Regions from separate parts of the Homo sapiens genome. Here region 1 is linked to region 2. The links come from fine-mapping of genetic effects on gene expression. A gene starts in region 2. The other region holds a variant in brackets. All regions are shown on one strand. Distances are between the middles of the regions.

Evidence for each region.
Region 1: its variant is fine-mapped to the expression of GAB4 in testis (GTEx, PIP above 0.99).

What each region holds. Positions count from the first base shown.
Region 1 is chr22:16,954,099-16,969,984 of GRCh38, reverse strand. GAB4 (GRB2 associated binding protein family member 4) reads left to right here. Exons shown (of 10, transcript NM_001037814.1): 4 at 1-42; 5 at 1,602-1,687; 6 at 3,621-3,885; 7 at 4,717-4,807; 8 at 5,123-5,219; 9 at 6,156-6,260; 10 at 7,109-8,049. The coding sequence ends at 7,252. Among named protein-coding and RNA genes, the nearest start is that of GAB4, 46 kb to the left of the region's middle. The variant C/T (reference allele first, on the strand shown) is at 7,505.
Region 2 is chr22:17,001,405-17,017,290 of GRCh38, reverse strand. GAB4 (GRB2 associated binding protein family member 4) reads left to right here and starts at 9,069. Exons shown (of 10, transcript NM_001037814.1): 1 at 9,069-9,350. The coding sequence starts at 9,177. It also overlaps the pseudogene IL9RP6.

The DNA of each region.
Region 1 (15,886 bases), 47 kb after region 2:
ACACCAGAGGCAGCCTCACAGGCTCTGAGGCGGATAATGAGGGTGTGTACCCCTTCAAGGCACCCAGAAGCACCCTGTTCCAGGAGTTTGGGGGCCACCTGGTGAACAATAGTGGTGTTCCGGCCACCCCACTCTCAGTGCACCAGATTCCTAGGACAGTCACGTTAGACAAGAACCTCTATGCCATGGTGGTGGCCACTCCTGGGCCCATAGCCTCCCTTCCCCTGCCCAAGGCAAGTCAGGCAGAAGCATGTCAGTGGGGCAGCCCTCAGCAGAGACCTTTAGTCAGTGAAAGTAGCAGGTGGTCTGTTGCTGCTGCCATCCCCAGGCGGAATACCCTTCCTGCAGTAGACAACAGCCGATGTCACCAAGGTCAGTATGAGCCCTCACTGAGACCCAGAGGGAGAGGGGAGGTGGCACCGGGTTCTCAGTGGTTAGCTAGTCCTTGGTCTCCCATGGCCAAGGGAGACTTGGGAGCCACTCAGGTCACTGATAGTCAAGTTCATCTCCTGCCTGGACCTTGACCACTGGGTCCCCCAGCACTGGAGGCTGTTAATAGACACCCAGTGGCAAGACTGGCAGACTTGGCCTCCACTAAGGGAGACAGAACATTCTTAGTTACAGTACAGCACATTATGGGTTTGGAATTCTAAATCATCATAGTGTATGTATGTTTAAATCCGAGTAAAGACTTAAAACAGAAGTTTAGGAGATCAGTCCAAAACTAGAGCCAAACCAGTGTGGACTAACAGACTGTTGAAACAAAATGAGATCTTCAAAATATTTTCCAGCCTATATTTGGGTCTCTTTGTTTGAAGCCTAAACTTGTATTTGAAATACCTAGATTCTTTTCTCATTTGTTTTCCACTGAGAGTATTTTATATCTGCATATAACCTCCTCTCCTCAATGAAAACAAATAGATCAATAGTAACTCCTTTCCTTTTGCATCCATTCTTATACCTTGCAAAGCCTTTGTTTATTCTTCCTGTTATGAGAGAGTCTGGTGGGGCAAAGCCTTGTTTTCTCCATTTTATATGAGGCCCATGGTACTTAGGCTTATTCAGGGTTGAAAGTCATAAGTGGTAAAGATGAGCCTCACCCTGAGGTCCTGGATCCTGGGTTAGAGTTCTTTGCAGTCTTTTTAGTGTTTCAGCAATTTGAGCAAGGCCCTTGTGCTGTGAAATTGAAATGATAGAGGTATATATAAAACATGTTTGCTGTTCAGAGCTCACATTTATGTGTAAAATAAAATGAAACCGACATGCAGAAGTCAGTATAAGCACTCTTTACTATTCCTGGAGGTGGCAGGTGGGTGAAAGGGATGGGTGGTGGGTGCTGTAGGAGTTGAAGGAAAAGGTGTGTCCTGAGGGCAGGCATCCAGGAGGGACACTGTGTGGGTAACACTGGAGCTGGACCTGGAAGCCCAGGAGGAGTTGTGGTAGGGAGCAGGGATGTGTTAGAGGTAACGCTTTGTCATTTGGGGTTGAGAGTCGTGTCCTCTAGAGCATCAGCGAGACCCTAAGCAGCACTGGGGAGGGCGTGGGAGGCATCAACACATGGATCAGCTGTGATGCATGTGGATCTCCTTCCTCTGTCGTAGCTTCCTCCGGCAAGTACACCCAGCATGGTGGAGGGAATGCCAGCCGGCCTGCTGAGTCCATGCATGAGGGAGTCTGTTCTTTCCTGGTGAGTATGGCTTAACCAGGGGTCCCCAGACTGGCTCAGGGAGGTAAAGGTCACACTCCATGGAACTAAAAGCACATCCCCCAAAGGGTGACAGCATCTCCCTCCTAGGAGGCTGCCTAGGTTCTTGCCTCAGTTCAGAACCATAGGTTCAGTTTTTGGATAAGTGAGATACTGGTATCCAGGTCTGGAAGAAAGTGAGTACTTAAGTAGATGGGATCACAAGTCTTACCAGCCCTGTGGGTAGCAGAGGGTGCAGAATGCTGGGGTTCTGGGTGCTCTAAGCAGGTGCTCTAACCCATGAGGTCCCCTGGAGCAGGAGTGCTTCCCTGTGAGCCTTTGGTATGGGTAGGCAGAGGGGACAGGCTGCTGGGGTGGTGGGTGATCTGATTCAGCAACCTTATCCAGGAGATCCTCTGGAGCAGGGGTGCTTCTGTGTGAGCCTCAAGGCAAGGGCAGTACTCAGAGTCAGGTGAGGTGGATGGATTCCAGGCTGCCACCTGGAAAGGGTAACCACAGTTCTCCAAGGTGTCAGACAAGCAACAAGGCCTGGCGTCAGGCTTCTTACAAAGATGGTGGGAATTAGGTAACCAAGGCAGAGGGCAGATGAGGCAGGAGCTGGAGGAAGGCTGTACCTAGGTCTGCTGCATTGCGCAACTCTGTGGCAGCTCTGCCTGCAGCTTGGTGGTCACCCAGGAGCCCGAGTGAGCCCCAGGCTCCCTATACCTCCCTGATACCTTGTCTGCTAATCACAGCCATTGGGGGAGAGGAATCTCCTTGTCTGGGGAAGTGCACCTCACCCCATACGTCACCTTCCAGGGCCAAGACATCTGATGTGATCCTTGCCTTGATCAGGGCCTGAGATGCTGACCTGCCAGTGCCGAGTCAGGACTTGAGGTGGATGATGGGTCTCGAGGCCACATCTGCATGGTGCATGGTCTGTGCTGCCTTCTGCCTGGGTCTGGTATCCAGAAACCTGAGTGGACATTGGGTGCTGAGCCACATCTGCATGGTGCATGGCCTGTGCTGCCTTCTGCCTGGCTCCGGCATCCGGAAACCCACGTGGACATTGGGTGCTGAGCCACACCTGCATGGTGCACGGCCTGTGCTGCCTTCTGCCTGGGCCCAGCATCCAGAAACCTGAGTGGACCCAGCCACTAAAGATATTTTATCCCATAGATTTGTCACAAATTGTAGTTGGACCCCAAGGGGTCCTGAGAGCTAGAAGTGCCCAGACATCTCATTTTTTTCTTGCCTCTACTTTGATTTCAGAGTCTTTCCAAGGTCACTCTGATAGCTTCAAAGTGTAGCCCTCCCCATGTAGTGAACTCTTATAATTGTATGCTGCCTTGGCATCCACATCGAATGGAGTTTTAACTTTCTCAGACCAGAGGCAGAGGACTTAGTCTCCCTGATGGTTTCCAGTTCTACACCACACCCATGTGGCTTCAGTCAGTGGCCAGAGATGGGAATTTAGACTTACCTCCCCCATGCAGCAGACTGGGCTCGCCACTTTCTTGCTGCTCCCTTTAAATGGACCATCCAGGCATTTACTCTGACCTTAATTAAGTGATCCCACACCCCATTCTGCAAGATACACTTCCAGTTGCCACCCTCTCTCCTCTTACTCCCTAACCTCCCAGGACCTGTAAGAACTGAAAACTCTTCCACTTTTACATGTTGACTGTGTCATGGAAGCTGCTCCAAAGTCTGACCCCTGAGGCTGCCCAGAGGGGCCCCATCCATGGGGTTCCTGGCTGGGGCACTTCTATCTGGGCCGCAGGTGGCTGCTGAAGACAGCAGCCCCCAGCCAAGGTGATCAAAAGTTTCGTTCAAAACACCCCGTCATGACTCTTTTTGGCCTTGTCTAGAAATTCTCATTCCTATCTTGTTCTTGCTGGTGATAGCTGTGTTTCTTTCACTGTCCTCTTCCTAGCCAGGAAGAACGCTTGTGGGCCTGTCAGACAGCATTGCTTCTGAGGGCAGCTGTGTGCCCATGAACCCAGGCTCCCCTACCCTGCCGGCTGTGAAGCAAGCAGGCGATGATTCCCAGGGTGTCTGCATCCCTGTGGGCTCATGTCTTGTTCGCTTTGACCTGCTTGGCTCCCCACTCACAGAGCTTTCTATGCACCAAGACCTCAGCCAGGGACATGAGGTCCAGCTGCCCCCTGTCAACCGCAGCCTCAAGCCTAACCAGAAGGGTAAGTCTTTCCCCATTCTATTTCTTGACAATGTCCAGGGACTCTGCATTCGCTTAGGTGTCAGGTGGATCCTGGATGTGGAACGTCTGACTTTGGCAAGTCATGTGAATTCTCTGAGCCTCAGTTTTCTCCTCTGTGAAATGGAGATAGTAACTCCTACTTCCCGGGTTTGTTTGGAAGGAGAGTGTCTGGGACAGTGGCCCTGGCTCACAGCAGGTGTCCAGTGAAGTTTGGTCTGTGCCCTCCACGTGTAGACCAGGAAGAAGAGCTAGAGCTCAGGTTCCAGGCTGCCATGACCTCACCCTGTGGCCTTGGCCCAGCACGGGGTTCAAGGAAGGAGTGGGATAACTGGGTGGGGATCAGTCCTGTGGGTCTGGCCACAGGGAACCAGACCCAGCGAGTGGCGCTGGAGCCTCAGCACCTCATGGTGTCTACCTGCTTCCATGGTGGGCTACACAGCCCTGTCCAAGGCAAGCAGGGGCAGGCATGGGGACTAAATCCATTTCAAACATTGTGTCTGTTTTTTATATCAAGTCAAATTTAGGCAGAAAAATCTATTGTCAGACTATGAGTCCCCATTTTGGATTCTGAAAATACAGTGGCTATAGATACAGTGGGAGGAGCATACGATCTGGAATCTGAGAACAGAACTCTAAGGCCCTTCAGCATGACCCAGCCGATAGAGCCTTGCCAAGCCTCAGTCCCCCGCACACAGCTGGGTGGACTGGGTGGACGGGGTGGGCCTTTCTAAGCACACCTGGGCCTTGTAGCAAAGTGGACATGGGTGTGGTGTCATCACTGGCTGATGACAAGGTTCTTTTCCTGCTCCAGCCAACCCAACACCGCCCAACCTGAGAAACAACAGGGTCATCAATGAGCTCTCCTTCAAGCCACCTGTCACAGAGCCCTGGTCTGGGACCAGGTGAGTGTCTGTCAGTGGAAACAGGAGCTTGGGACCGGGCCGGTGGAGGAGTGAGTGGGATGGTCATTGGCTTGTGGTCAGGATAACTGGATGCTCATGTCGATGTGGACATGGCTGATCCTGTCTCCGTCTCATGAGGCGTGACGGCCTTCTCATCTGTAAAGGGGGAATAATGATCCCTGTCCCTATCAGTTCTTGATCTGGTAACAGTGTGAGGCCTGGATGCTTGAAGTCAGGGCCCAGCTGGAGGCTGGAGCCCTGACAGCAGCCCTGAGCCCCACCCAGGATGTACTCCTTGCCTTCTTCCCATGACAGCCACACCTTTGACTCCAGCTCCTCCCAACACCCCATCTCCACGCAGAGCATCACCAACACAGACTCAGAAGACAGTGGAGAGAGGTATCTTTTCCCGGTGAGTCCTTGGGGGTCACTGTAAGGCTCCTATCAGAGTCCCCTGGGACCCACACTCATGTCCCCGCTTCCCAGCTTAGCTACCTCAGCTGACTCACCCCAGCCCAGTCAGGTGTGATTTGGTCTCCTATTGCAAGCTCTTCTTGAGCACAGGTGTATCAGGCAATCATTAGGGTTAGGAAGATGATGGTCTCCCCTCAAGGAAGTCTGGAACTTGAAGAGCAGAGGCAGCCCACCTCGCCCTCATGACGGTGATACAGGTGGTGCCCTGCCCTGGAAGAGGCAGAGTTGGAGGTGTCTGCTTCGCCATGGGGAGACACACATGTACATGCTTCACCCTGGTGAGGGCTGTGAGAGACGTGGAGATGCAGGTGGAACACAGGATGCCCCTTAGATTGGCACTGAAGAGGGCATCATGACCAACATTTGATAGTTGCTGCATAGATATTGGAAGAATGAGCCAGCCAGCAAAGCAGCCAAAACCCAGAGCCCAGGGCGGCCACTTTTCTCACCAGAGCCAGACTTCAGGAATGTCCCAGCAAGGTGGCAGCCTTCTAGAGAGGAGGCTGCGGGACCCTGCGTGTCTCCTGGAGAGCTGCCAAGGGGGTAGGCTCCATGCAGCCTCAGGTGGTGGGCACTGCCGATCTCTGGGAGCTGGAGGGGGAGGCAGCTGCTTCATAGGATGGACCTACTCTGGGCCATGGGTGGGAGTTTCAGATGACTGACTGGGTGCAGCATCCAGTGTGTGAAGGAGAGGCACAGTAGTAACACCTGGCTCACAGGACTGCTGAAAGGGTTTGAATGAGCAGAGAGTGCCCCAGTGCATGGCTCAGAGTAGGACCCAGTGGGCTCGTAGCTACGCCCACAGGTGTGTTCCACTGGGTGCTGGGTCTGTGTCCTGAACTCATTTGCAGGATTTTCCTCCTTGTGACAGCAGAACCCGGCATCTGCATTTCCTGTTTCCGGTGGCACCAGCAGTTCAGCCCCGCCGAGGAGCACTGGTAACATCCACTACGCGGCCCTGGACTTCCAGCCGAGCAAGGTGCCTGGGGTGGAGCTGGGGTTGGGCAGAGCCCTTGGGCCCTGGGGGAGAGACTGTGGGGCCAGGCCCTTCAGCACCGGCAGCACTGGGCTGCTGGGCTGCCACTCCCAGCCCAGTGCCTGGCTCTTATGCTCAGTGGTGCTCTGATCTGGATCTCGGGGCTCCTGTTCCTTCCCTCTCAGCGTGGTGCCTTCATCAGCCTGCCCCGACTCCCCATTAGAGACAGATGACTGTGTGGAGACCTGATCTGTGGAGGTTGTGGAATAAATCAGGAGAGACCCAGGACCGGCAACCTGGCTCCAGGCCAAACTCTTCTGTGAGGAGAACTCACTGTGTGGGAGGGTTCTAGAGCCCGGCCATTGATGCGGGGGACCTCAGAAGGAACTCCTGGGTCCAGGAAAGCCTCCCGAGAAAGCACATGTAGCCAGCCTGTCTAGACAGCAGGGTGGAGAGCTCCATCTCTGTGCATTGCGCCCCTTGGGGAGATAGGGCTCACCAAGGGCACCCCTGGAAAGGCCTAGGCTGGTGCTTGTTGACACCTGGGAAATTTCCTGCCATGGATGAGTGTTTAGAGGGGAAGGCCTTGGCCAGTCCTTGGGCCAGAGAAGGGCCTGGCTCTTCCTGCGAGGTGGGAGATGAGAAGTGCTGGCCAGGGCTATGGCATCCAGCAGGAGGAGAGGTTAGCCTGGAGTTGAGGCTTTAAAGCCCAGGCCCCCCAGGCTGCTGAGAGCAGGAGGCAGAGGTTCCTTCCCCCTGAGAAAGTTTGAGAGAGCCCACTCCTTGGCCTGCCCTTCCTCACCAGGAACTCACAGACACTGCCACTCCCACTTCCACCCTCTGTCCCTCAGCCATCCATAGGCTCTGTCACGTCCGGCAAGAAGGTGGACTATGTCCAGGTGGATCTGGAGAAGACCCAGGCCCTGCAGAAGACCATGCATGAACAGATGTGCCTGCGGCAGTCCTCAGAGCCTCCCAGGGGCGCCAAGCTGTGACTCGGGCCACCAAAACCAGAGTGGGGCCAGGACAGTGCCTCAGAGCTGCTCCGCCACACTCTAAAGCTCTGTAATATCAGGGACCGCATCCCTTACATAGAGAGCAGAGGCCTGATCAATATACATCCTTTGCCTGCTTGGGGCCCACCTGTGCCTTTGGCTGGCCATGGTCCCCACCTTCACCCCCTTGCTAGGAGCAGTTGCCAGCAAGCATCCTCAGTCTCTTCCTGCCCCTCAGACCCGGGCTCCCAA[C/T]AGATTTCCACTCTCACACTTACTCATGGTCCTCAGCCTCTTCCTTCTAGCCTCTGGGCTGTTTCCCTCAATCCTGGAACATGAGGAGCTACCTTGCTGACCCGGGGACCCAAGGCCCACAGGCCACAGTGGACATGGACCTTTTCAGCCCTGGCATTTTTTGGTCAGGGGAGAGGCAAGGCCATCAAACGTTGGAATAGTTGAGAAGGAAGGTTAAAGGTGGTCTTGAGAAGCAAAGGAATTAGATCCTTAGACCAGCAGGGCAGCTGATACCTGCAAGGGCTCCCACTTTCAGACTGAGGCCAGAGTATGGCAGCTGCTCCCGGGTGGGAGAGGCAGAGAGGGAAGGGCAAAAGGAAGGGAAAACATGAAGACGAACAGCCGAAAGCCACAAGAAGCAGGGCTGGAGCTCCAGAGACTGGGGTGACAAGGACCAGGGTCAGGGCCCCAGAAATCCGGAGCTGCAGGCTGGCTCTGCTGCTCTTTGCTGATGCCCCTTGGGGGGCCCTTGCCTGCCTAAGAAGGCTTGATCTGAGCTGGGCAAAGCAGCAACTGATGGGGGAAATACCTGCAGGGTGAGGGGTGGGATGGGGCAGGGAGTGAGGGAGGAAGGGAGCATGTGCAGATGGAGATGGCTCAGGGCTGAGGGGCTCCTGGGACAGGCAGGGGCCCGAGGCAGGGCCCGGGACTCCGCAGTGCAGGTGGTGCAGCACGTGACCTTCTGTGAAGGGGCAGAGCAGTGGGGAGGGCACAGAGGGAACCCATGGGAGGCAAGGCCGGGGAGACAGCCAGGGAGAAGTGGGGAAATGTGGCCAGGGGCCCTGGGGGCATGCCATCAGTGGTGAAAGGAATACAGGAGCAGAAGGTGAAGGGGGGTCTGCTATGCATGGGAGCAGTGTGGGAGGCCAGCTGGAGGGGCATCTGGGACGCGGGTAGAGCCTGCAGGGAGGACGGCCTGGGGTGGGGCTGAGGCTGTGCCAGGCCGTGTTTCCCTCTCACTTCGCCCTCTTCCTTGGCGTTCCAGTGCCACATTGGACTCAAACTTGGCTATGGGGACAGGAGAAGCCAGTCTCCTCCTCCTGTGACTTGAGAGATTCTCAAATCGCAGGTTCAGAAGGTAGGCCCTCACCCAGGGCTTCTTGTGCCAAAGTTCAGGTAGGGATCTGAATTTTTTGTTGAAAGTTTTTGACCAAAATTTCGAAGAGTTTCAGAATGAACAGGGCAGAGCGGACACTTCATCCTACCTTGGGGTGAACAGACTTTCCTCCTCCAAAAAATGACTGCCCACAGGGTTTGATGGAGGCGGCCTCCACACCCTGTCAGCACCTGTGAGCACCACACTTCACCAGACCAGGGGCCTGGCTGGCTTCTGGGGATCCATCCCTCAGCAGGAGCCCTCTCCCCTGGCAGCTCAAAGGCTCAGGTGGCAAGGCCCCGGGCTTAGGCACTGAGGACACGGGGAATCTATTAGACCTTTTCCCAAACGTGACAAGGTCACATCAGTGAGGGAAAGGACAAGGACACAGACAGTGGTGATGGCCAAGATAGGCTGAAGATGCTGATGGGGTGCACAGGAAGTGAAAACTCCTCAGGGAGTGGAGGCAGAGAAGGTGGTTTTTAGGACAAGGGGTGCCTGAATTAGTCTTGAGAGGTTAGGTCAGATTTTTGCAGGGAAGGAGGGCAGGGCCAGGCTGCAGTGGAGGAAGGAACGACAGACTGGAAAAGCCTGTGCTGAGGGGCCACAGGAGCTTTGGAGGGCAGGTCCAGCTGCTCAGAACTGCAGGGGCCGGGCCTTTGTGCTCCCACGGGTGGAATGGTGATGGCTGTGTGACCACACTGGGCAGAGTGTGCAGGGTGCTGGCTCACTGGCCCAGCCCTGACTGTGTCCCTGTAAGGTCCTCTACAAGGGGTCCCATACAGCACAGCTCTTAACTGCCATCCCCTGTCCCCAGCTGACTACAGTGGGGCCCAGTATTGATCTCAGCTCCCAGCCCAGCCACCTTCCCTGTTGATCCCAGGCTGCTAAGAAAGTGCTGCATGTTCTGAGTGTGCATGGTGTGCATGAACTTGGTGGAGGCTTCAGAGACTGAGGTGTTCAAGTCCCATCTCCAGAGGGGTTCCTTCCAGCTCTTGGTTCCTGTGACCACCAAACCCTGAGGGTGAAAGTAGGGGTGGAGATGGAAAGAAGGACAAGAGAAGAGGACACTGGCCTATTGGAAGCAGAGCTCTACTCCCAAGCCTGGACTCCAGCCATGTCTAGCATGTATCCCCCCCTCCACCCACCATCCCAGAAGGAAAAGTCAACTCAGCTTAATACAGGGGTCCTTGGACCTATCTTGAGGTTAAAGTCCACCTCCCCTGGTGGCCTGGCCAGGACTGAGACCCCAAAAAGGGACACCTCAGCCAGTGCAGCTCACATGGGGGCTTGTCCTGCTGGGCTCTCCAGGGGAGCCGTCTTCACCCACCCCCACCACCTGCAAAGTTAGAGAGCAGTCAGGTGGGAACAATGAGAAACGGGCAAGGACATCTCCCTAGGACTTTGCTTTCCCATCTGTGGAGTGGGTGGTTGGATTCGATGTTGTCTGGCCCCTTCCTAGGCTGAGGCTCTGCTGGTCTCGGAGCTCCTTGCTCTGTTACTTCTCTCTGGAGGCTCTGCATCGCAAGGGATGAGCAGCACGAGAGCTTTGGCCAATTAGTCCCTTTCTGGCTTGATATGGACAACTTCTTCATTTCAAACTATTAAAATAGACCACATTCCTACGGCAGAAGCACAACCATTCTGGTTATGGGAACATAGGCTCAGCTGTAGTCGGCCTTGTGGTCCTTCAACGTGCTGTGAGGCTGTCATCTTAGTCCCAGGCCCTGGCACAGCATCACCCACATGACTGTGACCCCCAGGGACATGCAGGACAGGGAAGTGAGCACTTCTGTTCTGGGCCTGGGCCTTGATCTGGGAAGTGTGGGGGAGGGGAGGCTGACCTGCAGAGCACTAAGAGCATCATTCTGGGATACACCAGGCCCCTGAGGCCTGGGACGATGGCCGTCTGCCTGCTGAGAGCCCACTGCAGAGTCAGGCTGGTATGTTTGGTCCAGCGGTGTGTGTCCTTGTGTATTTGTTGGCTACTTGTATCTTGCTGTTTAGAATCATTTTGTACAGAATGTTTGGTTTCTCATTAAGAGAAAATGGGCAAGAAGCCCAGTCTTAAGTTCTTGTCTTGGTACCATTTAAAATTGACATTTCATTTTTTTTTTTTTTTTTTTTTTTTTTTTGAGACGGAGTCTCGCTCTGTCGCCCAGGCCGGACTGCGGACTGCGGACTGCAGTGGCGCAATCTCGGCTCACTGCAAGCTCCGCTTCCCGGGTTCACGCCATTCTCCTGCCTCAGCCTCCCGAGTAGCTGGGACTACAGGCGCCCGCCACCGCGCCCGGCTAATTTTTTGTATTTTTAGTAGAGACGGGGTTTCACCTTGTTAGCCAGGATGGTCTCGATCTCCTGACCTCATGATCCACCCGCCTCAGCCTCCCAAAGTGCTGGGATTACAGGCGTGAGCCACCGTGCCCGGCCGACATTTCATTTTTCAAATCACTGTTGGTGCCTAATCACTGAAGTTATTCCATTTTCTTTTAAAACTTTTGTTATGTGTATTTACCCTGTGAGCACACCTGGGGGTGACAGGAGTGTGCTCAAGAGGCTATCATTTCTGCTGTGGTCACTGGACAGGCCTCGTGCTGGCAGGCTCCTTTGTACTGAAGCACTGGAGCAGGACGGTAGTGAAGTTCATGAGGAATACAGCCCAGGGTGGGCTGCTTGGGTCTTTCTGGGAGTGGAGCCCACACTCACTCAAGTCTCACCTTAGGCTGAGCCTGAGCACCTGGCTGCCCTGGGCAGGCACAGACACACACTGTCAACAAGAAAACCATTTCAGAATCATTTCTCCAATGACCCAGGAAGGCCACTGTGCCAGTCTGTTCACTTCATCTTAAATAGGAAATAGGTACTTTTCCTGGCTCAGAGAGAAAATAAATTCTCTTTATCACAGAATCTACTTTCCTAATCTGTAAACTGGACATTGTGCTAGCACCTGCCAATCCGTCTTTCTTAGAAGGGAGTCTAGAGGTGGTTCTGAGAGGGCTTCATCTGTGTCTGTGTCCACTGGGCCCCTGGCAACAGGTTCCTGAGGTCTGACATCTCACAACTCCCCTCCACTGCTCCACCCACTGCACAAGTGGGGCAGCCCTTGAGGTCCCTGGTGCCTTTTTACCTTCCATGTTCTCCCAAATGGCACTGTAGGAATGGTGCTTGCGGACCCTGTGGTAAGGGCTGCTCCCAAGCCCCGTACATGCCCCACTTCTCTGCTTCAACTCCAGGATGGGGTGGGGCCCAGGAAAGGAGCCGGGTGCGGGCTCTGGAGTGGGAAACCTGTGGTGAGGGCTGATCCTGGGCTCTGCGAGTGTGGCTGCTCCTGCGTTTCTCTAGCTCCAGGCTGGGTTGTTGCCTGTGGTAAGGAGCTAGGTGTAGGCATGGTAGGTGCACCATGGCCCTGTGGTGACAGCTGGTCCTGGGCCCTGCCAGTGTGGCTGCTCATGTGCTCCTCTCCAGCTCCTGGATGGGATGGTGTCCATGGGAAGGAGATGGGTTCGAGTTCTGGAGAAACAGGGGGCTGCCTCCCAGCTAGCCCTGACCCATGCCAAGTCCAGCTCTGGAGATGTGACAACCCCCTCTCAACCTCCCCAGCTTCTCAGATGCAAGGAAAGAGGGATGTGGCATCTGCAACAGGTGTTTGTGGGCAGTCCAGAATTCTTGGGTCTGAAACATTTCCAGTTATTTATTTGGGTTTCAAGTGCACCTGAGAGGTGAGTCCCCTCCACAGTATTCCACTGGGACCCCCCATCCTGTGCACCCTTCCTCTCTCTTCCATTCCATCCTCTAGGTCCTCCCAGCCTCAGAACTAGGCAAGTCCTTCAGCACACAGGGCTGTCACTCCATGCTGTACCTCAAGTGATGGGGACAGGGGTATGTCCTCTCCTTACCAAGGAGCAGCATGGGTCCCTATCATGCTGCCCAGATGCAGTGAGGAAATCGAGGGTACAGCATACAGGAAGAGCAACAGCTTTCAAAGGCTTCAGAGAGGCTGGTTTCATACTGCTTGAGAACAAGGGTCTTTCTCTTCATAGAAAAGAGGCTATAGCATGGTCAAGGCACAAGAAGATCACTGGACTGCCCTCGCTCAGCCCTCAGCTACTGCTCTGGCTGTCCATGGCTGAAACTCATCCTGCTGGCCAAAGCCTTTGCTGTTCCAGTTGTTAAATATTTTGATACCACCCTTAACTCTAAAGGGTGGAGTCACAGGCACAGTTAGGAGGTAGAACTAACCTCCCACTGACACTTGGCCATTCACACTCGTAGAACAGCACACTTACTAAACAACTGCATAATTCATTATTCAAAGTCTGTTCCTCTGAAGTAAGGGGTTAGGTGCCTGGGCCACCGATATATTCCGAGCACTGAGCAATGAATGAATGAATGGATGGATGGATTTTTTTAAAAGGCTCAAAGTGAAGGGAAATATTGTATCGAACCAGTGCTTGGCTGGGACTGGATGCATCTCCACCCAGGAGATCAAATCCAGGATCCTGGTGTGTCTGCTCTTCCACAGGTGAGGATGCTGCTGTCCTTGGAAATGGCTTCCGTTCAGCCCTATGGAGGGTGGACATGGTCCAGACTCTGGGAGAGCCCGGCTCAGCCTTGGGCCCCTCCCTAGGCCACTGCTGGTAAAAGAGCACACAGACCTTCCTTGGGTAAAAGGGAGGGGACATTGCAGATAGACAGCAGGAGAAGGCCACCTGTGTGGGCAGTTCCCATAGGGCCTAGGCGGCAGCACCCTTGCGGGCTTAGCAGTGGTTGGGACGGCTCTCCTGGGACACTCCAGAGAGTGCTGGTTCAGTGCTAGTCCACAGTCCTGGCCTGGCACCAGCAAGTGGGGCAGTGATGTCACCCAGGATCTTGCAGTTCCTGCATTGAAGGGGAAGCACAGCAATCTCTGGATGAGGTAGTGTGGCGCCTGGCTCAGGCCCCTGCCTGTTCAACACCCTTCAGGACAGCACCCACCTCGCTGGAGCAGCGGTTCTCTGCTGTCAGCCTGAGGGAACAGGAAGTAGTTGACCAGGTTCAAGTCAAAGCTGGAGACCACACAGCGCCTTCACAGAGAGGGTAGTGGTGTCCTGTGGGTCCCTGGTCCCAGGCCATTCTCCCCCTTCTTGTTCACCTTCTTCATTCACCTCTGTACCCTCAACAGCCCAGGGATGCCTGGCAATGTGGGTGCTCAGAGGTCACAGTAGATGAATGATACTTACAGCACATGAAGGCCCCAGACTTAATGCAGTAGGTGGAATCACTGGAGAGAGAGATGTGGGCAGCAGTACAGAATGGGGCTCGAGGGGGCCCTGCCATGGCCCCACAGTCTCTGTCATGAACCTGTGCTAGCATGGACAAGGGCTCAATAGCTTCTTCCATGAAGTAGGCTCTTGTAGTCAGATGCAGGTAGGTCCTGGGGCAGGGAGGGTGTCACTGTGGAGGCCTGACCAGAGCTTCCTTTCCACCCACTCCTCCCCCTGCACACACTTGGCTGTGATCCAGGAAGGCAAAGAGCCACTGCAGCCTGGAAATAAAAGGCTGTGAGTTGTTCTCAAATGAAGCCAAGAGTGTTTGAAGCTTCACAAAAAAGCAGGAGTGCCCAGGGTAAGCAAAGGCCCCAAAGGAGCTTCTCCTCACCCATGGCCTCCAGGCCGAAGGCAGAACAGGCATTTCTAGTTCAAGGTGAGGCTGGAGGCATGGGACCTGGAGGAAGAGAAGGTGAACACTTGGCCCAGAGTGTTTGGGATCAGAAACACAGCAATGACCTTGGTTTGGAAAATAAGCGGTATAGCAAGGTAACCCCCGAAGTCCCTTCTAGCTCTGACATCCCATAGCCCCAGGAGCCAAAAATTAGTGTGTCCTAACATCTTGTGATGCCAGGGTTCTAAGGCTGGGGCTCTGGTCTGCCACAGAGTTCATGTCAACATCATCCCACCCACAGCAGCCCCCACACCCCTTTCTCCGTGGTTCCCCAGGAAAGAACATACAGACCCCTGCAAAGCAGCAAGCTCCACCTCTGTCCCAGTCCACTGCTGCAGCCCCTGTTCGGGGTCCTGGCCCTAGAACCACCATGAGTTATTCTACCCACACCGCTTTCTCCCTGCTTCCCCGGGACAGGGCATTCAGACCTATGCAGGGCAGTGCATCTGGCTCCAACACACGGCCCCAGTTCACTCCTGCAGTCCCTGCTCAGCACCCTGGCCCTAGAGTCACCCAAAGTTATCCCCCTGCCTTCAAATGAGAAAGGCAGGCATCAGTATGAGAATTATCCTGACAGAAGAGGACACGGTGGTGTAGACTGGCTCCTGATGGCAGAGGTGTGGCCCTGTGGCAGACAGGAAGGAGATCCTCTTCATGCCCATATTCCCTGGAACAAGCTGATTTCCAGATCCCAGCTTTGTTTCTCTTCTCACTAGACAATCTGGAAAGATCACTCATGCATTTCTCCAAACAGCCCACTGCATAGAATAGCACTTCTCAAAGTGTGGGCCACTTAGCTGGTCCAAGGCAATGCAAGGCAAGAAATGGAGGAAGCATTTAGAAACCTGTAAAGCATTGTGATATTACCATGGCCATATAAGCACAGGATCATTTTTTTTTTGGTAAGTCATTTTATTGTATTTTACAAAAGTAATGGTCTGCAGCAGACCAAAATTAGAAAAAAACAAGTCCTTCACCAGGAAGTTTGAGAAGAACAAGTAGCAGCAGCTTGGAGATCACATCCAACCTCCTCTGCTGAACCTGAAGCTCAGAGAGGAGAAACTGACTTGAAGTCATACTATAAACCTGGATCAAAGCTTACTTTCACAGAATCAAAGCTGAAATTTTGAGTGATTTTTAAGCAAGCCATAAAGTGAATAGGTAGCCATAGACAATAAATACTGCATTTGTTGCATTAAACAAAAATATGTCTGAAACCAGAATGAATGGGAGCTCCACACAGGAAGACACAATCCACCACCATGGACTCATGGAGAAAAGTCAGTGATATCAACCAGCCCAGTGAGGACCCCTCCTCCCACTGCAGCCCCGTCCCTTGTGCCCATCTTGAGTTCTCATCCCGTTGCTACCTACTGCCTTGGCAATGGCTTGAGGCCGTCTGGGGCCTTCATGTGCCCACAGACCTCGGGATCATGTCAGCAATGCAAAGCAAGACCCACTCTCTCCAGCCTACATTCTCACTCCTTTCTACCATCTATCATTGACCATAATGCAGAGAACCAAGGGCAGACAGGAAGTGCAAAATC
Region 2 (15,886 bases):
TGAAGTCAGTTAATGTGATTCCTGCATTTAATCTGTGAATTGCTTTGGGTAATATAGAGATTTTAACATACTAACACTATCAATCCATGAACATGGAATATCTTTCAATTTTTGTGTCTTCAATTTATTTTATGATTGTGTTATAGTTTTTGTTGTAGAAATCCTTTACTTCTTTGGTTGATTTCTATGTATTTAGTTCTATTTGTGGCTATGATAAATGGTATTTCTTTTTAAATTCTTTTTCAGATTGTTCACTCTTGGCATATAGAAATGCTACTGATTCCTGCTGGGCGCAGTGGCTCACGCCTGTAATCCCAGCACTTTGGGAAGCTGAGGTCAGGAGATCGAGACCATACTGGCTAACACGATGAAACCCCGTCTCTACTAAAAATACAAAAAAAGTTAGCCAGGCGTGATGGTGGGTGCCTGTAGCCCCAGCTCCTCGGGAGGCTGAGGCAGGAGAATGGTGTGAACCCAGGAGGCGGAGCTTGCAGTGAGCCAAGATTGCACCACTGCACTCCAGCCTGGGTGACAGAGCGAGACTCTGTCTCAAAAAAAAAAAAAAATGCTACTGATTTTTATATATTGATTTGTATCCAGAAACTCTACTGAATTTATCAGTTCTAGTAGTTTTTGTGGAGTCTTCAGGTTTTTTACAAATATAAGATTATATCATCTGCAAAACAAGGATAATTTGTCTTCTTCCCTTTAGATGCCCTTTGTTTCTCTCTCTTGTCTGATTGCTTTTGCTAGGACTTCCAGTACTACGGAGAATAACAGTGGTGAAAGTGGGCATCCTGGTCATGTTCCAGATCTTAGAGAAGGGGATTTCAGTGTTTCCCCTGTCAGTATGATACTAGCTGTGGGTATGTCATATATGGCTTTCATTATGTTAATAATGTTCTTTCTCTACCCAGGTTTTTGAGGGTTTTTAATCATGATGGGATGTTGAATTTTATCAAATTTTTTTTAATGTCTTAATTTAAATGATTATATAATCTTTTCCTTCATTTTGTTGATGTGATGTATCATTTGGATTGATTTGCAACCATTCTTGCATCCTTGTGATAAATCACACATGATCATGAAGAATGATATTTTTAATGTATTGCTTAAAGGTTTGTTAGCATTTTGTTGAGGATTTTTGCATCAATATTAATTGGAGATATTGTAGTTTTCTTTTTTTAAAGTGTCTTTGATTTTGGTATAAAGGTAATTCTGGTGTTATAGAATGAGTTTGGAAGTATTCCCCATCTCTATTTTGTGGAATAGTTTCAGTAGGATTGGTGTTAGTTCTTTAAATGCTTGTTAGAATTCAGTAGTGAAGCCATAGAATATTGGGGCTTTTCTTTACTGGGAGACTTTTTATTACAGCTTTGATCTCATTATTTGTTATTGGTCTGTTCATGTTTTGTATTTCTTTGTGTTTCAATTTTGGTGTGTTTCTTGGCCCTAGTCTGGTCCACTCAGACCTGCTCCATGCTCACCATCAGGCAGCTGGTGGTCCTTCTTGAAGAGTGAGTGCAGCAGGGACCAGCGGTTGGGCTGAAGCCCCTTCGCCTCATGCGGACTCTCCAATACTCATTGAACTTCATGGTGAGGGACAGAGGACCCACCCTGGCTCTCAGCGGGAGAGCAGGGAGTTCTTGTTCAAGGAAGCCCCTGGGGCTGCCACAGGAGGCAGCCCTTGGGAAAAAGCGCCCAAGGCCCCCCTCAACCGGCCATCCTGCCTCCTCTGCAGGACCTTCTCTTCCCCTCTTTCCCTCCCTCCTGAGGTGAAAAGGAGGGGAGGAGACCACGGAGCCCACTGTGTCAGGGAAACCTGGCCCTTCCTTTTGAGCATCCAGGGGACTCGCATGGGTCTCACCCCTTCTCCAGGACCTGAAAGCTTCTCTCTCTGAAGAGCCCTGAGTTCCAGTCTCAAGTGTCTCGTTCCCCATTGCCTCCTGCTTCTCCTTTCATCCCCGCCACCACCACCTGGGGCTCACACTCCCTGCCTTTGGGCTTCAAATGTTGTACTACGTGCTTGACCCACTAGCCTGCTTAATCTTCAAAATCACTCTATCAAAAAGACATTTTAGGCTGGGCCTGTAATCCCAGCACATTGGGAGACCCAGATGGGCTGATTACTTGAGTGTATGAGTTACAGACCAGTCTGGGAAACATAACAAGATCCTGTCTCTACAAAAATAGAAAAAAATAGAAAAAAATTAGTGGAGTGCTGTGGCACATGTCTGTAATCCCAACTACTTGGGAGGCTGAGGTGGGAAGATTGCTTGAGCCTGGGATGTCGAGGCTGCAGTGAGCTGAGATCATGTCACTGCACTCCAGCCTGGGCAACAGACTGAGACCCTGTCTCAAAATAAAAATAAAAATAATTAAAAAGGGAAATTGCCGAAATCATTTAACCAATAAGATGAGCACCTACCTATCAGGGACAATAAAAGTTTAAAGGGGCCAACAATTATGAAGGCAGTATTGAATTCACTTGAAATATGAAGAACACCACATTGGGTGAATTTAGATAGGAAGGCCAAGGAGATATTCCTAGGAATATCATTATATATGGAAAACACTGAAAAAAGACACTGCAGTGTTTGAGAAAATAATGGCCATAGAAACAGATTTCATGGACCTTCCAGCTTATGAAAAAATCAACTGAAATTGCTCAACATTAGGTTAGAACATTAAAAAGGAAAAATAAGCCATTATAGAAGGAGAGAATTGGAATAGGGGACAGGAATGACCCATTTCCCAGTCTCTGCCTAGAACAGGGCTGGGGAAAAATCTGTGGTCATCATATTCACCATTGCATAAACACATATTTTTTCTATATGTCAGCAAGGAGCAAGTGCTACCAAGACAAGGCAAGGAAAAGGAATAGAGAATATTGCTGGGTGCTTTTCTGTAGGGTGATCAGGAAAGGCCTCACTGAAAAAGAGACATTAGAGCAGAGCAAGTGAGAGAGAGAGAGTCATAGAGAGATCTGTGGGAAGAGCATTCCACGTGAGGGCAACAGACACTGCAAAGGCCCCGAGGCAGGGAGTGCTTGGCATGTCTGAGGAGCCAGAAAAAGGCCAGTGGAGCTGGAATGGAGTGAGTGAGGAGTAATAGGGGCAGAACACATACGGCCTTAGAGATCATGGCTCTAGGTGTTTTATTTTCCAATTTTTAAAATTGTGTTAAAATACACATAACATAAACTATAGTAGTTTAACCTTGCTTAAGTGAACAGTTCAGTAATATTAACATTCATATGGTTGTGCAACCATTACCACCATCCATCTCCAGAATTCTTTTCAACTTGTAAAACTGAAACCCTCTGTCATTAAACAATAGCTCTCTGTTCTCCCTTCCACCCAGCCCCAGGCAAGCACCATTCTACTTTCTGTCTGTATGCATTTGACTATTCTTGGGACCTTATAACAGCAGAATCTATGGTATTTGTCTTTTCTGACTTATTTCACTTACTCTAATATCTTCAGGGTTATTTTAATATTATTTGTCAGAATTACCTTCCTTTTGAGAAATGAAGAATATTCCATTATGTGTATAGACCACATATCCATTCATCTGTCATGGACATTAGAGTTGTCTCCACATTTAAGCTATTAGTGAATAATTCTGCTATGACCATAGATGTACAAATACTTCTTTGACTCTGCTTTGAATTTCTTTGTGTAGACACCCAGAAGGGAAGTGCTGGATCATGTGAGCCTCCAACCCACTGTCTGCAGTTGTCCTTGCGCCTCCACTCCGCTGTCCCCAGAGCTGTCATTGATGTTCCACCCTACTATCTTGGAGCTGGTTTGAGTCTGCACCCTGCTGTTCTTGGAGCCTAGAAAGCCCACCAGGCCTGGCCAAACTCCACCCCTCCCTTGGTCTCTCCTCCCAGGCATCAGCACTTTGGAAAAGCCATTATGCACCTTTTAATATCTACGAAAGGTGCCTCAGGAAGGCATGGAGAGGTCACCACTTCCAGGTTATGGTGTCTCACCTGTGTCCACTGGCCCCATGCTGGCCCTTTAAGGGGTAAGAGCAGAACAGGCTGGGAGACTACACCTCTTTTCTCAGAGTGGCTATAGATAAAGCCAGAAAGGGGACAGGAGAATGTGGTGCTGTGGGCAGGATGCTGAGGGCAGAGGCCCCTCCCCACAGGTGCTGAGCAGGTCGGGCAAGGAGGAGCTTCCAGCCTCCATCCAGGCAGGACTTCTGACCACTGCTAGAGGCCCCTTCTCAGGAGGTCCTGTCCCAGCCAAGGGCCAGCTCCAGAGACTTTTGTCCATCTTCCCTAAGATGGACACGATGCAGGTGGCTGTGTCTGGGCCCTAGAAATTTCAGGACTGAGCCATGGTGAAGACAGGAGGGGATTGTGGGCCCTGGATGTCCCTGTGCAGCCCATGCCTCTAGCTTGGACCATTCACCGCCCAGGTACCTCCTCGCTAGGTCTCCAAGCCCCAGTGGTCATGTGACAGGCCATGGGGCAGGGCTGGGATGGGTTCAGGGCTCCATGTGCTTCCTGAGAGGGCTGAAGGGTTGCATCCCTCCAGAGCAGCCCAAGGCATAGTAGCCACTGCTACCCCACTCAGTCTCGGTGAGCAGGCTTGTCGGGGATGTAGGGGCCTGGTCCTCCAGTGGCAGGTAGGCAGGCAGCGGTGCCTCTCACTCCTCACACTCTGCTGGCAGCATATCCTCCAAACTTGGGGCCCCTAGGAGGTGTCCCCATGCCCTCCTGCTCTCCTCCAGGCTGACAGATTTCCAGGGACATGCTGAGTCACAGGTGAGTACTGCAGTGGCCTCTCGCACACTGAATTCCAAGGCTCCTTGCGAGGTGCTGGCACAGTCCTGGCTCAGCTGCACGCTGGCCCTGTGGGCCCCCATCCAGGTTAGAAGCAGAGTATGGGATGAGGAAAGGGATCAGGCAGCATGATCAGAACTCACCCTGGGAGTGGCAGCCTCCTCCTCAGCAAGCCCTCCCTCCTCCTCCAAGAAGCCCTCCTGATGTCCACACCCAGAGGCCAAGCAGCACCTGTGCCAGGAGCATTCTGTCTTCCTTACTATGTGCCAGCTCAGCCTCAACATGGGACCCTGAGTCTCTTCAAGTCCCCTCACTGCTCCCCTAGCACAGAGCCTGGTGCTCACAGCAGCCTGCACCAGGGTACAGATGGTGACATGTGCTGAGGAAAAAACAAACACTTGGCAGCATGCAGCATGTGTCCCAGGGCCTTTCAGCAGCTACAGAGACTGGGTACCCCCACCTGAACAATTTTCTCTGTCTCTCTCTCTCACACACACATAGCATGACGGACAGGTGACACGAAGACTGGTGACTTTCAAGGTGCTTGGGAAAGGCCAGCAGACCTGAATCCTTCTGTGGGGACACAGGAGACCTCTGCTTCCAAAAGGAAGCTCTTCCCTAGGTGGGACCAGAAGTATCCATCCAACACGCCACACACACACCACACCCTCCATCACTGCACTGCTCCCTGCCAGACCCTCACCCAAGGCCTAAATAATCCCTGGCAGATGCCCTGGTTCTATAGAGAAGGGCTGGTGTCTGCAAGGGGATGACACAGGCCAGGGTACGATCACAACCTCTGCCCCGCTCAGACTTGTCCTCAGCTGCCCAGGCTCTTGACAGTCACATTTGCCACTGTGAGGAAAGATGGGAAATCTGCCAAGACCCAAGTGCTCAGTTTTAAGCTTTAAATTATATTTTTGAACAACAATCCTAAGAACTGGGCTTCCTGTTGAAAGGGAAAATGATTTTTCTACATAATATGCTGGCAATACTGTGTGGAGGGGATATCTCTGCTGCACAGGGTCCAGGGAAGCCCTGCAGCACCAGGAAAGGAGATCCTGGTGTCACCCTACAAGGAAGAAGCTGAGACAAAGTTAATCTTAGTAGAGAGTTTATTTGAGACAAACTTCAGGATTGCAACTCTGGAGCATAGATTCAAGTTATCCTGAATATACACTGCAATTAGCAGCAGTTATGAGCTGATTTTTAAAGGCAAAACAAGGTGGGCAGGGAAGGGGCAGATACAATTCCTCAGGAATTTTAGTTGGTTCATAGCAATAACACTGCTTAGTGATGGGCCGTACACTGTTAAGCTATAGGGTGTGGGGTATGGCGTCTGGTGTGGCATTATGAGGTAAATTCATAGCTACTTCTGGCAACAGCAGTATCAAGAAATGAATACACAGCTCAATGTGAGGGAGTAGGACATGACTGTGGTCTCATTTTAATGCCTCTTTCTGGGCCTGATAATTAAAGCACTTGCATTTCTCAGATAAAAGTTATTTTATTTTCCTGACTGGTAAAGACCCAGGTCAGCTTGGTCCAGACCGCAGGGAGAGGCCCTCATGCCCTGTGTCCTTTGCCCAAAGTGAGAAGCCTGAGGGAGCACACTGGAGCCCACCCCTGGAGCTCTCCCTCTGCCCTTCCTCCTACCCACGGGGCATGAACTGCCAGCTCAGCAGGGAGGGGAGGGTCCTATGTGACCCCCAAGTAGTTCGCTGATACATGGGCTGTGGGAGCCAGACGAGGCCCACAGAGGGGGAAATGCAGAGCCCATTCCTGACTCTGGTGCCAATGTGTGACTCCAGGGGAATCGAAGGGGTGGGCAGACCAGGAGCCCAGGGTCAGTGAGGGTCCCAGGGGCAGCACAAGTGCTGGAGACCCTCCCCGACAGCCACCGGACAGACACTCACAGAAGGAGGAGGTGAGACCCATGGTGGGCACGGATAGCTGCAAAGCAGAGGAAACAGAGATAAGTTATGAGAAACTTATATATATTTTCCATCAACCATGGAATGGAAGACACAAGAAAAATAAATCATCAATGGAAAATAAAGTGGTTTTTTTTTGTCCACTTGAGACACAGAGGATAAATTTAAATTCACTGTATACACACACAAAAAGGCTCAGAACACTCATAAGTCGCCCACAGTGGCCCCCAACCGTCATCAAAGCCAACATCCTGGGCAGGCTAGACCTTGGGGCAACACCTGCCTTCCATGCCCTGTGGCAGTCTCTGCACTCTCCTGAAGTTCCCATTGTGCGCACTGTAGGGGGCTGGAAGAATGTTGCTGGAGAGGACATATTCTGGAAGAGGGTTCTTTCCACCCTGAGGCCAGGAGAAGACAGTCAGAGGCCCACGGGGACCCAGGTCGGGGCTCCTGCTGAGGCCCCAGTCGGTACGAGGTCACTGCAGGGGCTGAGCTCCCTTCCATCCAGGAAGACCTTATCTGCCTCATTCCTGCCACTGCCTCTCTCCCGTCTCACCCCATCCAAACCTACTCTCATCTCAGGGCAGGATCCAACTGGGTACCCTGTGGCCTCGTTGGCTAACTGATTTATACTAAGGTATGTGTCCTTTACAGTGTGAGCTGTGATGGTGAGTTTAGAATTGACTCGCCATGACTGCAGCCTGCAGAGGGAGCCAGCACCTCCAGGAACCCCATTCTTGCCATCAGCAGAGGGTCTATGGCTCCCACCTCATCCAGTGTCTCCCTGAGCACCATGTCTGCCTGACCAGGACCCAGTGGTCCTCCCATGAGGATGCTGCCTAGGGCTCCAACCCAATAGGTCCAAATACACCTCACCAACCTCCCCTCGGGGCTGTCCCCCCATTCCCCACCTCAGGGTCGGGTCACTACTCATATCTCATCCACCCACATGTCTCCTCAGTCTCAAGACTCTGCAATTTCCTCCATGTGGCTCCATCTCCACTTTTCCCACCAGCTCAAGCCAAATCTTATCTCTATGGACATCCCATTGGCCCTCATCAGGTCCCCCATGTCTGCTTGTTCCTGCAATCCATTCTCAAAACATAAAGCATAACATGTCACACAGTTTCACACTCTTCAGCACTTTCCTTTGCTCTGAGGAGAAGCCAGGCACCCACTCACCTGGCCCCACCCAGCACCCCCATCCCCACACACTCTTCCTTGCATCCTCCCTGCTACCTGATGGGGCCCCTGTGCCCCTCTTGTAAGCTGACATGCAGTGCACATTGGGGATGGCTTACTGAAGAGGCCCCTTGTCTGTCCTGTTCTCTAAGACATCTGCAGAGGCAAGAACAGATCCTGTGCATATCAGATGCCCCCAACTGTGCTTTCACACAATGTGTGAACAAAGAAGCAAACCAAGCTCCTCCAGAGGCAGGAGACAAGGACCTCCGGCTTCTTGGTCCCCGTGACACCGGGTCTGGTTGAGGCCAAGCTGCCCTCATCTTTGACCTGTTCTCTCCTTCCCTTCTCTCCCCAGGCAACATGAGAACCTCCAACTGGCCCAGGGAAGGAACTTGTAAAGCCCACCCCAACCAGGATAAGACAGTGGGGCATAAATGGGAGGAGAGGGGTTGGCTGTCAGTGCCACACTCAATGAACACTCACACATGCACACACTGATGCGTGCACACACGTGACATAAGTACACACGGTGACATCCCAATACATTCACAAACATACACAACACAAACAGGCCCAAACCCTCACTCTGAAACCTAACCCCACCCCCAAACTGCAACCCGGAACTCAAGTCCTAGCCTGAACCTTGACCCCAAACCCCAACTCAAGTCAGAAGGTAAACCATGGGCCGAATCCCGAACTGGAACTCAAACCCCAGCAGGAACCTGAACTCTTCCATTGTCTTTCCTCATCTGGCGCATGGGACTCAGCACCTGAGACTCTGTTGTGGCCCTCTGAATGAGCTGCGCCCCTCGTTCTTGTCCTCTCCACCAGCTGCGCTCCCTGTCCCTCTTCTCCCAAGGAGCCACCCGGCCCATGTCCCCCGCCCCGGTGGTCCCGATGAGATGCACCCAGGCTGACCCAGGGTGCAAATCCCCACCCCAATCCCCAACGCAAACCCTGAACGAGAGGCCTCGTCTAAACTTTAATCCCAAACTCCACCTCAAATTGGAACCGGAACCACAGATGGAAGCCTGAACCGGAACTCAAAGCCCAGCTGGAACCTGAACCCCGCCCTCGCCTGTGAGCACCTGCGCCCGGGTCTCGCCCTCCCCACGAGCTTCACCTCTGACCCCGACCTCCCCTAGAACTGCGCTTTCTACCCCGCAGTCCCAGGGTATCGCAAGCCGTCCCTCACACCCCACCTCCAGCAACGCCCTCTCGCCCTGTCTCCCCCACCTTCACTGTGAGCTGCAGCCCCCATGTCCCTGCCGTCCCCCTCACCCTCCCGGGAGCTGTGCCCACCTGACCCGGCATTTGCGCCTTTGTCTTCGTGGCCCGGAAGTGGCCCCGCCGGCGGAAGCACGAGAAGTGGCCACGTGCTGTACAGCGGCTGGCTGAGGAAGTCGCCCCCCGAGAAGAAGCTGAGGCTCTTTGTGAGTGGGGCAGTGGGGGCGGTACCAGGAGCGCCACGGAGGGTCTGGGGACTCCGGGAGGGGCGTGGGGGAGGCGGCCTGGGTCCACGGGAGGAGCTGCGGGTGGAGGCGACTTCTCCACGTCTGCATGCGAAGGCGACTCCCCGCCAGTGAGAGACAGGGTCCAGGTTTGTGTGGGTTGCGTTCCGAGACCCAGGGAGTTGATTCCAGGGCTGGGGACCCTATTACCTTGAGCGCCGTGGGCCTGCAGGTCGGAGAGTGGGCGGGAAAGGGGACACAGCAGGCTCCGCAGCCTCGCAAAACGGCAGGAACCTCGCACCCGCTCCCCTTCCCTCCCAGGCCCTGAGAATGGCGGGCACCTCGCACCCTCTCTCCTTCCCTCCCAGGCCCCAAGGAAGGCAGGCGCCTTAAACCTGCTCACCTTCCCTCCCAAGCCCCGAGAAGGCAGGCACCTCACACCCTCTCCCTTTCCCTCCCGGGCCCCAGGAAAACGCGGGCACCTCGCACCCGCTCGCTCCCCTTCCCTCCTCACCCGCCACTCCCGGGGTCGTTCGCGTCCTTCCATGCCACCACGCCTGCTGAGGGACAGTGTGCACTGCAGTGTAGTTTTCTATATATTAATTCATGTGGTTAAACGATTTAGAAAAAAAGAAGATTGGTTGCCCTTTCCCCTAGTGGCTAATTTGAAGAGTGTTGTTCTAAATTTCAACAATTTTACTGAGGAAGCGGTAATTGTTAGGAGTCACTATGATTATACCAAGGTACATAGAAGAGGCTTTTCTCTCCTGTTCCTTAGCCCCAGGTCCAGCCCTTCAAGAATCTATTCCAGAATAAGCTGATCCTATAGTCATCTTCCCTTTCCTCTGCTTCCCTGAGGTATGGGGTATGATCAATTCTGCGTTCTTGTCTTTCTCCATTTCTTTTTTCAATTTTTTATTATACTTTAAGTTCTGGGATACATGTGCAGAACGTGGAGGTTTGTTACATACATATACACGTGTCATGGTGGTTTGCTGCACCCATCAACCCATCATCTACATTAGGTATTTCTCGTAATGCTATCCCTTCCCTTGCCCCCCAACCCCAATAGGCCACATTGTGTAATGCTCCCGTCCCTGTGCCCATATGTTCTCATTGTTCAGCTGCCACTTATGAGTGAGAACATGGCGGTGTTTGGTTTTCTGTTCCAGTGTAAGTTTGCTGAGAATGATGATTTCCAGCTTCATCCATGTCCCTGTAAAGAACATGAACTCATTCTTTTTTATGGCTGCATAATATTCCATAGTGTATATGTGCCATATTTTCTTTATCCAGTCTATTATTGATGGGCATTTGGGTTGGTTCCAAGTCTTTGCTGTCGTGAATAGTGCTGCAATAAACATACGGGTGCACTTGTCTTTATAGTAGAATGATTTGTAATCCTTTGGGTATATACCCAGTAATGGGATGGCTGGGTCAAATGGTATTTCTAGTTCTTGATCCTTGAGGAGTCGCCACACTGTCTTTGACAATAGTTGAACTAATTTACACTCCAACCAACAGTGTAAAAACATTCCTATTTCTCCACATCTTCTCCAGCATCTGTTGTTTCCTGACTTTTTAATGATGGCCATTCTAACTGGCGTGAGATGGTATCTCGTTGCATTTCTCTAATGACCAGTGATGATGAGCATTTTTTCATGTTTGTTGGCCACATAAATATCTTCTTCTGTTAAGTGTCTGTTCATATCCTTTGCCCACTTCTTGATAGTGTTGTTGTTTTTTTCTTGTAAATTTGTTTAAATTCCTTATACATTCTGGATATTAGCCCTTTGTCAGATGGATAGATTGGAAAAAATTTCTGCCATTCGGTAGGTTGCCTGTTCACGCTGATGATAGTTTCTTTTGCTATGCAGAAGCTCTTTAGTTTAAATAGATCCCATTTGTCAATTTTGGCTTTTGTTACCATTGCTTTTCATGTTTTAGTTATGAAGTCTTTGCCCATGCCTATGTCCTGGATGATATTGCCTAGGTTTTCTTCTAAGGTTTCTATGGTTTTAGGTCTTACGTTTAAGTCTTTAATCCATCTTGACCCCGACCTCCTTCAGAACTGAGTTAATTTTTGTATAAGATATAAGGAAGGGGTCCACTTTCAGTTTTCTGCCCATGGCTAGCCAGTTTTCCCAACACCATTTATTAAATAGGGAATCCTTTCCCCATTGCTAGTTTTTGTCAGGTTTGTCAAAGATCAGATGGTTGTAGATGTGTGGTGTTATTTCTGAGGCCTCTGTTCTGCTCCATTGGTCTATATATCTGTCTTGGTACCAGTAACATGTTTTGGTTACTGTAACCTTGTAGTACAGTTTGAAGTCAGGTAGTGTGATGCTTCCAGCTTTGTTATTTTTGCTTAGGATTGTCTTGGCTATACGGGCTCTTTTTTGGTTACATGTGAAATTTAAAGTGGATTTTTCTAATTCTGTGAAGAAAGTCAATGGTAGCTTGATTGGAATAGCAATGAATCTGTAAATTACTTTGGGCAGTATGGCCGTTTTCACAATATTGATTCTTCCTATCCATGAGCATGGAATGTTCTTCCATTTGTTTGTGTCCTCTCTTATTTCCTTGAGCAGTGGTTTGTAGTTCTTCTTGAAGAAGTCCTTCACATCTCTTGTAGGTTGTATTCCTAGGTATTTTATTCTTTTGGTAGCAATTGTGAATGGGAGTTCACTCATGATTTGGCTCTCTATTTGTCTATTATTGGTGTATAGGAATGCTTGTGATTTTTGCACATGGATTTTGTATCCTGAGACTTTACTGAAGTTGCTTACCAGCTTCAGGAGTTTTTGGGCTGAGATGATGGGGTTTTCTAAATATACAATCATGTCATCTGCAAACAGAGACAATTTAACTTCCTCTCTTCCTGTTTGAATACCGTTTATTTCTTTCTCTTGCCTGATTGTCCTGGCCAGAACTTCCAATACTATGTTGAATAGGAGTGGTGAGAGAGGGCATCCTTGTCTTGTGCCGGTTTTCAAAGGGAATCCTTCTAGCTTTTGCCCATTCAGTATGATATTAGCTGTGGGTTTGTCATAAATAACGTATTATTTTGAGATATGTTCCATCAATACTTAGTTAATTGAGAGTTTTTAGCACGAAGGGGTGTTGAATTTTATCGAAGGCCTGTTCTGCATCTATTGAGATAATCATGTGGTTTTTGTCATTGGTTCTTTTTATGTGACGGATTACGTTTATTGATTGTTTGTCATAAATAACTTATTATTTTGAGATACGTTCCATCAATACTTAGTTTATTGAGAGTTTTTAGCACGAACGGGGTGTTGAATTTTATGGAAGGCCTTTTCTGCATCTATTGAGATAATCATGTGGTTTTTGTCATTGGTTCTTTTTGTGTGATGGATTACGTTTATTGATTTGCATATGTTGAACCAGCCTTGCATCCCAGGAATGAAGTCGACTTGATCGTGATTGATAAGCTTTTTGATGTGCCTGGGTTCGGTTTGCCAGTATTTTATTGAGGGTTTTTGCATTGATGTTCATTAGGGATATTGGCCTGAAATTTTATTTTTTTGTTGTGTCTCTGCTAGGGTTTTGTATCAGGATGATGCTGGCCTCATAAAATGAGTTAGGGAGGAGTCCCTCTTTTTGCATTGTTTGGAATAGTTTCAGAAGGAATGGTACCAGCTCGTTTTTGTACCTCTGGTAGAAATCGGCTGTGAATCGGTCTGGTCCTGGGCTTTTCTTGTTGTTGTTGATAGGCTATTAATTATTGCTTCAATTTCAGAATTTATTATTGGTTTATTCAGAGATTTGACTTCTTCCTGGTTTAGTCTTGGGAGGGTGTATGTGTCCAGGAATTTATCCATTTCTTATGAATTTCCTAGTTTATTTGCATAGAGGTGTTTATAGTATTCTCTGATGGTAGTTTGTATTTCTGTGGGATCAGCGGTGATACCCCTCTATCATTTTTTGTTGTGTCTATTTGATTCTTCTTTGTTGTGTCTATTTGATTCTTTATTAGTCTGGCTAGCGGTCTATCTAATTTTTTAAAAAACAGCTCCTAAACTTACTGATTTTTTGAAGGGTTTTTTTGTGTCTCTATCTCCTTTAGCTCTGCTCTGATCTTAGTTTGTGTTCTGCTAGCTTTTGAATTTGTTTGCTCTTGCTTCTCTAGTTCTTTTAATTTTGATGTTAGGGTGTCAATTTTAGATCTTTCCTGCTTTCTCTTGTGGGCATTTAGTGCTATACATTTCCCTCTAAACACTGCTTTAGCTGTGTCCCAGAGATTGTGGTACATTGTGTCTTTGTTTTCATTGGTTTAAAAAAAATCTTTATTTCTTCCTTGATTTTGTTATTTACCCAGTAATCATTCAGGAGCAGGTTTTTCAGTTTCCATGTAGTTGTGCATTTTTGAGTGAGTTTCTTAATCCTGAGTTCTAATTTGATTGTACTGGGGTCTAAGAAACTGTTAAGATTTCCATTCATTTACATTTGCTGAGGAGTGTTTTACTTCCAATTTTGTAGTCAATTTTAGAATAAGTGAGTGCTATGTGGTGCTCAGAAGAATGTATATTCTGTTGATTTGGGGTGGGGAGCTCTGTAGATGTCTATTAGGTCCACTTGGTCCAGAGCTGAGTTCAGGTTCTGAATATCCTTGTTTCATTTCTGTCTTGTTAATCTGCCTAATATTGACAGTGGGGTGTTAAAGTCTCCCACTATTACTGTGTGGGAGTCTAAGTCTCTTTCTAGGTCACTAAGAACTTGCTTATGAATCTGGGTGCCCCTGTCTTGGGTGCATATATATTTAGGGTAGTTAGCTCTTCTTGTTGCATTGATCCCTTTACCATTATTTAATGCCCTTCTTTTCGTTTTTGATGTTTGTTGGTTTAAAGTGTGTTTTATCAGAGACTAGGAGTGCAAACCCTGCTTTCTTTTGGTTTCCATTTGCTTGGTAAATATTCTTCCATCCCTTTATTTTGAGCCTATGTGTGTCTTTGCACATCAGATGGGTCTCCTGAATACAGCATACTGATGCATCTTGACTCTATCCAATTTGCCAGTCTGTGTCTTTTAATTGGGGCATTTAGCCCATTTACATTTAAGGTTAATTTTTTTAAATTATACTTTAAGTTTTTGGGTACGTGTGCACAATGTACAGGTCTGTTACATATGTATACGTGTGCCATGTTGGTGTGCTGCACCCATTAACTCGTCATTTAACATTAGGTATATCTCCTAATGCTATCCCTCCCCCCTCGCCCCCAACAACAGGCCCCAGTGTGTGATGTTCCCCTTCCTGTGACCATGTGTTCTCATTGTTCAATTCCCACCTATGAGTGAGAACATAAGGTTAATATTGTTATGTGTGAATTTGATCCTGTCATTATGATGCTAGCTGGTTATTTTGCCTGTTGGTGCAGTATCTTCATCCTGTCGGTGGTCTTTACATTTTGGTATGTTTTTGCAGTTGCTGGTACCAGTTTTTCCTTTGCATATTTAGTGCTTCCTCAGGAGCTCTTGTAAGGCAGGCCTGGTGGTGACAGAATCCCTTAGCATTTGCTGGTCTGTAAAGGATTTTATTTCTCCTTCGCTTATGAACCTTTGTTTGGCTGGATATGAAATTATGGGTTGAAAATTCTTTTCTTTAAGAATGTTGAAAACGGAGGTTCCAAGATGGCCAAATAGGAACAGCTCCAGTCTACAGCTCCCAGCATGAGCAATGCAGAAGATGGGTTATTTCTGCATTTCCAACTGAGGCACTGGGTTCATCTCACAGGGGCTTGTCAGACAGTGGGTGCAGCCCACGGAGCAGGGTGGGGCATTGCCTCACCCGGGAAGCACAAGGGGTCAGGGAATTCCCTTTCCTGGCAAAGGGAAGCCATAACAGATGGTACCTGGAAAATCGGGACACTCCCACCCTAATACTGCACTTTTCCAATGGCCCTAACAAACAGCACACCAGGAGAATATATCCCACACCTGGCTCGGGGGGTCCCATGCCCATGGAGTCTCGCTCACTGCTAGCACAGCAGTCTGAGATCAAACTGCGAGGCTGCAGCCAGGCTGAGGGAGGGGCACCCACCATTGCTGAGGCTTGAGTAGGTAAACAAAGTGGCCTGGAAGCTCGAACTGGGTAGAATCCACCTCAGTTCAAGGAGGCCTACCTGCCTCTGTAGACTCCACCTCTAGGGGCAGGGAAAAGCTGAAAATTCTGAAAATCAGAGCGCCTCTTCTCCTCCGAAGGAAAGCAGCTCATCTACAGCAACGGAGCAAAGCTGGACAGAGAATGACTTTGACGAGTTGACAGAAGAAGGCTTCAGACGATCAGTAATAATGAACTTCTCCGAGCTAAAGGAGGATATTTGAACCCATCGCAAAGAAGCTAAAAATCTTGAAAAAAGATTATGCAAATAGCTAACTAGAATAAACAGTATAGAGAAGTCCTTAAATGACCTGATGGAGCTGAAAATCATGGCACGAGAACTACATGACACATGCACAAGCTTCAGTAGCCAATTTGATCAAGAGGAAGAAGGCAT